Linked DNA regions of Homo sapiens: all the other regions are linked to region 1. Evidence: fine-mapped expression QTL. A gene starts in region 1. Each other region holds a variant in brackets. All regions are shown on one strand. Distances are between the middles of the regions.

Evidence for each region.
Region 2: its variant is fine-mapped to the expression of ERCC5 in whole blood (TOPMed, PIP above 0.99).
Region 3: its variant is fine-mapped to the expression of ERCC5 in whole blood (TOPMed, PIP 0.97).

The regions. Positions count from the first base shown.
Region 1 is chr13:102,844,719-102,847,489 of GRCh38, forward strand. ERCC5 (ERCC excision repair 5, endonuclease) reads left to right here and starts at 1,314. Exons shown (of 15, transcript NM_000123.4): 1 at 1,314-1,636. The coding sequence starts at 1,549. All of the region lies in intron 9 of BIVM-ERCC5 (BIVM-ERCC5 readthrough), which reads left to right. RefSeq lists enhancers at 244-1,068, 653-702, 913-1,702, 1,069-1,891 and a silencer at 2,053-2,102.
Region 2 is chr13:102,883,814-102,886,584 of GRCh38, forward strand. It overlaps the pseudogene METTL21EP. Among named protein-coding and RNA genes, the nearest start is that of ERCC5, 39 kb to the left of the region's middle. The variant G/A (reference allele first, on the strand shown) is at 1,585.
Region 3 is chr13:102,878,445-102,881,215 of GRCh38, forward strand. It overlaps the pseudogene METTL21EP. Among named protein-coding and RNA genes, the nearest start is that of ERCC5, 34 kb to the left of the region's middle. The variant A/G (reference allele first, on the strand shown) is at 1,404.

The DNA.
Region 1 (2,771 bases):
TTCTGATCTACAAGCCGCGGCATTATAACTTTTAGATGCTGAAGAAAACTAAACTATATGTCAAGGATTAAGGCTTGTGAACCCCCAAAATTTGGGACAGGTCTCAGTTAATTTAGAAAGTTTATTTTGCCAACGTTAAGGACGCGCAGCTGTGACACAGCCCCAGGAAGTCCAGATGACATGTGCCCAAGGTGGTTGGGGCACAGATTGGTTTTATACATTTTAGGGAGACAGGAGACATCAATCAACATATGTAAGTACACTGGTTCCTTCCAGAAAGGTGGGGACAACTCGGAAGCAGGAAGGGCTTCTAGGTCACAGGTAGATGAGAGACAAAAGGCTGCATACGAGTTTCTGATAAGCCTTTCCAAAGGAGACAATCAGAATATGCATCTATCTCAGTGAGCAGAAGGATGACTGACTAGAATGGGAGGCAGGTTTTGCCCTGAGCAGTTCCCAGCTTGACTTTTCCCTTTTGCTTAGTAATTTTGGGACCCTAACATTTTCACAGGCTTTAAATTTTATTATTCTTTAGTTACTACGTGCTAGCATATAAATAAATAGTACAAAACCAAGAAGGCATCCACCTTTTGGTTGTCTCTTCACGTGTAAAACAACACTTTGTGTTAAGTATCTTCACACACGGCGGCGCAAAGGTAGAAACCGATACTAAAAAAGCGTGTAGAAAATAGTTCCCAGCCTGGGCAACACAGGGAGACCTCATTTCTACAAAAATAATTCGCCAAGCATAGTGGTGCGCACCTGCGGTCCCAGCTACTTGAGAGGCTGAGATGGGAAAGTTGCTTGAGCTCGGGCAGCAGGAGTTCCAGGCTGCAGTGAGCTAAGAATGCGCCACTGGACTCCAGTATGGGCGACAGCGTGAGACCCTGTCTCAAACAAAAACAAAAGCCCGTTACTCCACCAAGAAGGCGCTTTTGCACATTGTTTTAATGCTTAACGCCTTCAGGATGCCAGCGTGACGGAAGCAAGTAACCACCAAGGCATCACCACTGGCGCTAAACTTCTCACTTCCGGAGTGCTGCAAGCGCAGAAAATATACGTCATGTGCGGAGGCGGAGCTTCCGCCCTGCGCGTCGTATTAGACGGAAACCGAGCGGGCCCATTTTTCATGGGTTTGCGGACCCACCAGCGAAGGCGGGAGGTGTCGCAGGGACATCTTCTGGCTGTTTCCGTCGCCTGCGTGGCCCTTGCACCCCGGTCTTCCATTAGCGGCGCAGACGTTTGGGCCTAAGCGCTGGGCGAGGCGAGGCCCTGCCCCTCCCCGCCAACGGCCATTCTCTGGACCTGTCTTTCTTCCGGGAGGCGGTGACAGCTGCTGAGACGTGTTGCAGCCAGAGTCTCTCCGCTTTAATGCGCTCCCATTAGTGCCGTCCCCCACTGGAAAACCGTGGCTTCTGTATTATTTGCCATCTTTGTTGTGTAGGAGCAGGGAGGGCTTCCTCCCGGGGTCCTAGGCGGCGGTGCAGTCCGTCGTAGAAGAATTAGAGTAGAAGTTGTCGGGGTCCGCTCTTAGGACGCAGCCGCCTCATGGGGGTCCAGGGGCTCTGGAAGCTGCTGGAGTGCTCCGGGCGGCAGGTCAGCCCCGAAGCGCTGGAAGGGAAGATCCTGGCTGTTGGTATCCTTAACGCCGCGTTGGGACTTGGGGTGCAGGGATTCGGGGCTGGATTCCTCGCGGGGCTCTGCCTTGGGCACAGTGGCATCTGCAGGATGATGGTCTTGGGTCGGGGTCGGGGTCGCTATAGAATCTCTGTCACTAGGTTTTCTAAGTACAGTCGTCCCTCGGTATCCCCGGGGCTTTGGTTCCAGCCCCTCCTCCGTATACCACGATGTTCAAGTTCCTTCAACTCCCTTATATAATGGCGTGGTATTTGCATATAAACTACCCACTTCCGTAATCTTTTAAATCGTTTCTAGCTTACTTGTAATGCCGAATGCAATGTAAGTGATCTGTAAATAGTTGTTATACTGTATTTTAAAATTTTTTGTAGTTTTTATTGGTATGTTTTATTTATTTATTTTTTTCCATCGCAAATATTTTTGATCCGTGGTAGGTTGATTGCGGAATCGGGTGATGAGGCGGGCCGCCCTGTCTGCTTTCCCCAGCTTTGCAGTCTTAGCGGCCTGTGCATCCTGGTTTGTCACTTTGTGGCAGTGCTTTATGTTCCTCTCTGCCTTAGTTCTCTCATCTGCAAAGTAGAGGTGGTGATAGTATCTACACACAGGATTGGAATGAGGAATAAAGAAATTGCCTACATGAGAGAAGTTTAGTGCGATTAATACAGTAAATCTTAAAGTTATTATCCTGTCCGGGAGGTCAGTAAGGAGAGCAGAGTAGACTTCGACGATTAGTTTTGCTTGAGTCTTGCCCCATTTATGTTTCTTAGAGGAAGGATAGTGTGGACAGGTGTTTTACCCATTTTTTAAATTGACTTTTTAAGGACTATTGTTTCTGTACATGTTTGGCTGGTTTTGTTTGTCATTGGAATTAAATTCTTTTTTCATTAGCAAAACGTGATACTGCTTTTGAAATTTTTATCTTTTTCTTTGTTATGTAGTCATTTTTTTTTTTTTTTTGAGTATCTATTCTGGCTCAGAATCTGGTGATACCTTACACCAATTTCCTAAATGGGGATCTATGAGTCTAGGGGCTCGTGGGCTTGTGGAAAGAGTCCTGTAAATGATTGCGGGGGGATTGGGGACGGGAAATGGAGTGCAAGAGTGTGTGGGCGTTCAGCAAAGGAATCCCTGAC
Region 2 (2,771 bases), 39 kb after region 1:
TTACCTTGTGCTACTATCCTCATTTATCCTATATTCTGGTTCTCAGGGTTTCCAAAATTGGTCAGGAGACTTTTTGCCAGTGGGCTTTTGCACATGTCATTTCCTGTATATGGCAGGTCTTCCCTTCTCCTATTTGACAAACTCATAATTAGGAAGGCTCAGATAATTCTTTCCTGAGCTCTCTGAGAGGTGGAACTTTCCATTTTTGCATTGCCTACTGAAGTCTCTGTTATAGCACTTTTACTGAACCTCTCTTATATAGCACTTGGTCTGCCTTCTAATTCATAGTGCCCAGGTACTTAATAAGTGAGTGAATGAATGAATGAATGAATTAGCTATAACATAACCGTATTGGCTGACTTAAATTTGCTCATGAGTGATGATCTTGTATTTCTGATCATAAGTCAGTTGACTCCCTTCAGGACCTAATATAATGTTCTCCTCAAGGCATCACATTAAAAATTTTCAGGAGCATCTTCATAAATCTTTGCAGAATTGGATTAATGGGTAATATGGTTTTTATAAACAGTATTGCATTAATATATATGGAAATTTATGTAATTCTACCACTGTTTTAAGAAACCTATCAAACTACAGTCTGAGGCAATATATTTAATATACTAGTTGGAGTACTATAGCACATATAATTACTAAAGTGAGAATAATTTATTAACACATTTTAAACATTTTACAAGTAACATGAATAATTATCTTCCAGATAAGACTAATAAATTTTCTACATGTTGAATAAAAATAACTCTTGAATATACCAGTCTACTTCAGATGTCTTCAAAACTCAGATTTGAACGTCAAGTTTGAATGTCAATTGTCCACCCCTAGGGGAGGCATACCACCACTTTGAAAGCACACACGTTCATACTTGGCTCCTTGACCCAAGGCCTTCATTTAGACTCTTGTCATTTTTCATCTAGACTGTTCCAATAATCTTCTAATTAGCTTGTAAGGTCACCAGTTCTTCAGCTCCTGCTGTCAGATGTAGTTCTTAAATATCAAATCTGATCATGTCAATTCCTGTTCTAATAATCTTTATTAGCTCCTCCTCACCTTATAGAACAAAGGTCAATGTTGCACATAAATTTAATCCCAACCTACTTCTTCAGGCTTATTTTCTATAGTTCCCCTCCATGCACCTTGTGTAATATTCATTATAATCCCTAAAGACACAATCCAAAATGCCATGATCCTGAATGTTGAAATCCCCAAAGAACAAATGCCCTTACAGCTAATTGAATTCCCAAACCATAATGATAGATTTGGAATTAGGTGCCATCAAAACTTCTAAAGGTGGATTTCAAGGTGTTAGCAACAGTTTCTTTTTCCATTCAGCCCAATACATTTGCCGGAAAATTCAGATGAATGGATTGCCTGTAGAATATAGTAACATGGAAAACTTCAGTTTATAACGCATTATTTGTCTGCATTGGCATTCCTTCTAGCTGATGAAATTCTAGGAGGTCTTAATGAGTTAAAGCTGAATTTGCCTGATGAAGCCAGCAAAGTTACTGACTCTAAAATAACTATGTGCATGGTAGGATAAGAAAGCACACAATGATGTTGCTGTTC[G/A]ATCACCAGTATTGTTTCAGCCAAATCTGTGGTCTGTATATGAGTGCATGAGCAAAGGATTTCCATGTACCCAAAACAACACAGAAGCATGACACAGAGATAGGAAATTTAATAGAAAATGCTCATGTCAGTGTGTATTGAATAAAACTAGAATTTCAAAAAGAGCAGCATCATGTAGAAAATCAATGTGAATGTATTCTTCAAGAAGAGCCATGTCCTAAAAGAAAAGAAACAGTTACTCATCTCCACGCAAGACTTCAGAATACAGTTAATGATTGTGGAAGTCGGCCAGCTCTTATGGGCTACCTCCGTGCAGTTGCCCATAATTTATCCCTGTAATGCGCTTTTTCATATGTTGAATTTTCTTTTTAGTTTCTTTGGGAAGGTTTTGTTTTTCTTTTTCCTTTTTTAAAGTTTTTTTCCTCACCATTTTAAATCATCAGCATTATTTTTTACAACTCACTATGGTATGCTACGTGTTTCATCTTTACATTTCCAAAACTAGAGGCATAAATTGTATGAGCTTTTAGAGAGTTCTAATTTGTTTTATGCACTTTTTGTTTTTTGCAAAATTGACTCCATGGAAGTGCATTTTAATAACACTGACCTTGTGTGTAAGCATTGTGCATATATATGTAAAAACCTTAAAACTTCCTCAATAAATAAAGGGATATCCTTTTTCTGCATCTGCATTTGTGAAAGATAACATTTTTCAATATCTCAGCTCTTTAGGCAACTGTATATGACTGTATATGTGGTGGTGACCCATTGTTGGTATTTAATTTTAATTTTTTTAGCAAGGGGCGTCTCACTATGTTGCCCAGGCTGGGCTCTAACGATCCTTCCACCTCAGCTTCCTGAGTAGCGGGGACTACAGGCGTGAGCCACTGCATTCAGCTCCACTGTAGGTTTGGATCTGTTTCATCAGAAGACTTAGGTTGTTCATCAGGATATTTCAAGTGACCAAACTATATAAGTGATTTCTTTATGAATACAATTTCTCTGCTCATAACTGTTATGCCTGTGTAACTGTGGGTAGCACACCTGAGTGCTTATCATTGCAAAATTATGTATATACAATTTTATTGTATAAAGTAGCCCACAAAGTGTTCTGTTGTGTTTTTATGTTTCTAAACTCTTTTAAAAATGTAAATATGTTTTAAAGAACTTTTAGAATTATTTTTATC
Region 3 (2,771 bases), 34 kb after region 1:
TCACTTTCCAGGAGTGCCCTGATGTTTCTTCTTTTGCGCTTGGATCTGCTTTTGCCACTGAATGCTTCAAAAATTAGCCTCTTGCCCTAAACAGCTTAATCAGTCAATTCTTCGACTGAATAGTCAGCACTAAGCGTCAGGCTTCTCTCTCCCTTTTTTCTGGGATCTTGGGCCCACAAATCTGACTGTCTTGGCAGCCACACTCTTCTTTTGTCTCCACAGTTCTGTGAGATTGCCTGATGCTCCGCTGCTATCCTTACATGCGGTCTTCTCTTTGGCTTCCTCAGGAAACAGCAATGCCTGGAATTCTTGGCTGCCTTGACAGCTCTCTGATACTTTATAACAGAGGCATGTTTGTGTGGGGTGTGTGTGTGTGTTTAAAAATCTATTTTTCTCATTGTTAATAGAAGCTGAGGTTTGCTATAAGCTACTTACAGCTGGAGGCAGAAGTCTGTATGTATTTGTTAAACAGTCATGTTGGTTAAGATGCTTGATTGAGGGATTCTGCCTCTTAAGAGATCTAACAGTGAGGATTGCATGATCTTTCAAAAAAATCCTTAAAAAAGACAATGGTTTTTATTCGTCATTTATTTTGTTTTTAAAAAAGCCCCAAAGAAAGAGTATCCTCTGCCCCAAGTTAACTGCCTATGAATAATAGTTCACATTGCTTAGGATTTTGAACTTTCCAGAATGTTTTTACCTATAATATTCACCCCACAAATATATGTTGTATGACTTTTGTATCATTTTTAAAAGACATTTATATTTTTTTGAGATAGGGTCTTGCTCTGCTACCCAGGCGGGAGTTTGGTGGTGTGACCACGGCTCACTGCAGCCTCCATTTCCTGGGCTGAGTGGTCCTCCTGCCTTGGTCTCCCAAAGGCTAAGGCACCCTGCCGATATATACTTGTTCTATAGATGATGAAACCAAGAAACATACTAAGTAAATGGCTTAAAATCACAATCTAATTATAGGCAGGAATAACTAAAATCAGGCTTCCCAACTCCTAGCCCTTTCCAATACATTAAAGTGACCTCGATTCATCTGTGTATACATTATGGACCTGTAGTCACACTCCTAAGTTTAACTTTCCAATATTGCTTTATCTTAACTCTGTAACTTTCTATCAGGGATCTTTCCAGTGGCATGGGAAATGTGTATGTCCTCTGAGAGGCACACATACATGCACTTGGGCAGGTGCACAGATGGATCTATGTTCGGAGCCTGCCCATTCAGTCTGAATAAAAAGGAATCATGGTAGTTTGATTTCTGGGTGCAGAGCAATGCTACAGACATTCTAGTATGGTTGTTGGAGTCTAAAGACAGTGTTCCCATGCAGATAGGTGACATGAAAAATATGTAGCGTTCATTTCCTAGAATGTCATAGCCACGGAGTCTTAGA[A/G]TAACTCTTGGCATCCAAGTTAAAAGCTGGATCACTTCCTCCAAATAGTCTTCACTCACTTCCGGGAGTGGGTTGTATTCACCTTTAGCTCTGTTCACGAGACACTCGTGGGATATTCCTAGCCTTCTGCCCCCTTAGTTACGGGCATTGCCGTCTCACTGCTGTATAACCAGAGGCGTGGGAGCTGCAGCTGTCAGAATCCTAATCCCTTCTGCCTGGACTCGTTACCAGTGGTAGCGAGTGTGTATAGTAGTAAACTGTGCTGCGATGCTAGCCTTTCAGTCACTACCAGAGGTCCCAGCAGCAAAAACAAAAATTGTGGATGATACATTTTAACCTTCTAGAAACTCAGCTAACTCCTTTAGGTATGTCCAGGCTTTCCATTTAAATATCAGCCTTAAGGCAGACATGTCTTTCTTTAATGGAAGAGATCTAAATTGGGAGCAAAACATGTGACCACTTTTGCTATCGTTTTAGCTGTGTAGCCTCAATGACATAATTTAACCTTGGTTTTCCTGATTTGCAAACTGTAGGGAAAATAATGTCTTCTAACTTGCTGAAGTATGCTGTAAAAGAAAATGTGGTGGCTGTAAAATGTGCTTTGGGATTCTCGGAAGAAAGGAGTGCTATATTAATTCATGGTACTGCAATTGTTATTTTACCCCAGATTGAGAAGTAAAATATCAAATCGTTATTTTCTAAAGTTTGAATAACTGTTAAATTTATTCAGATAATCTGCTCTATTCAAGAGGCATAAATAGTTTCTTCAGTTTTAAATATATCGGCTGTGATGGTATGGACTCCTTAAGGTAGACGCTGCTCAAAAGATTATCTGGCAATGAGGCTGTTTGACATTGCATAGGTGCTAATGATGCATTGATGGTAACAAGTGAACTTTCAATGTTTTAATCGCCTCTTAAATTTTAGGATTGCAGTCTTACTAGTCAATATGAAGATGATGCCTTTCTTTGTTACAACTGAGGTAGTCTCTGGTGAAGAATATGTTTTCTTTCTGTAGTAGCTTTTTAAAATTTCTGACTCAGAAGCTTTTGTTCTGATTTTAATTTGTTCTAGATAGTGTTTAGATGGTCTTTCTTAAGTCACGCTTCGTTAATATATGATATTTTAATATAATTTTGTCTGCTGTATTTGAAGTTAAGCTTTATTAAGAAACTATAAAAGCACTCCATACATATTTTGAATTATTACCATTTGATATTTTAATGTATTATCTATCTAGTTTTCAAGAAATAATGAAGAAAACATCAATATATCACCTACCATCATTTCATTACTTGATGGATTCAGAAGCTCAAGAAGGTAAGTCATTTTATGTTTATGTAGCTTACCAATTCTAAGAAGACAAAT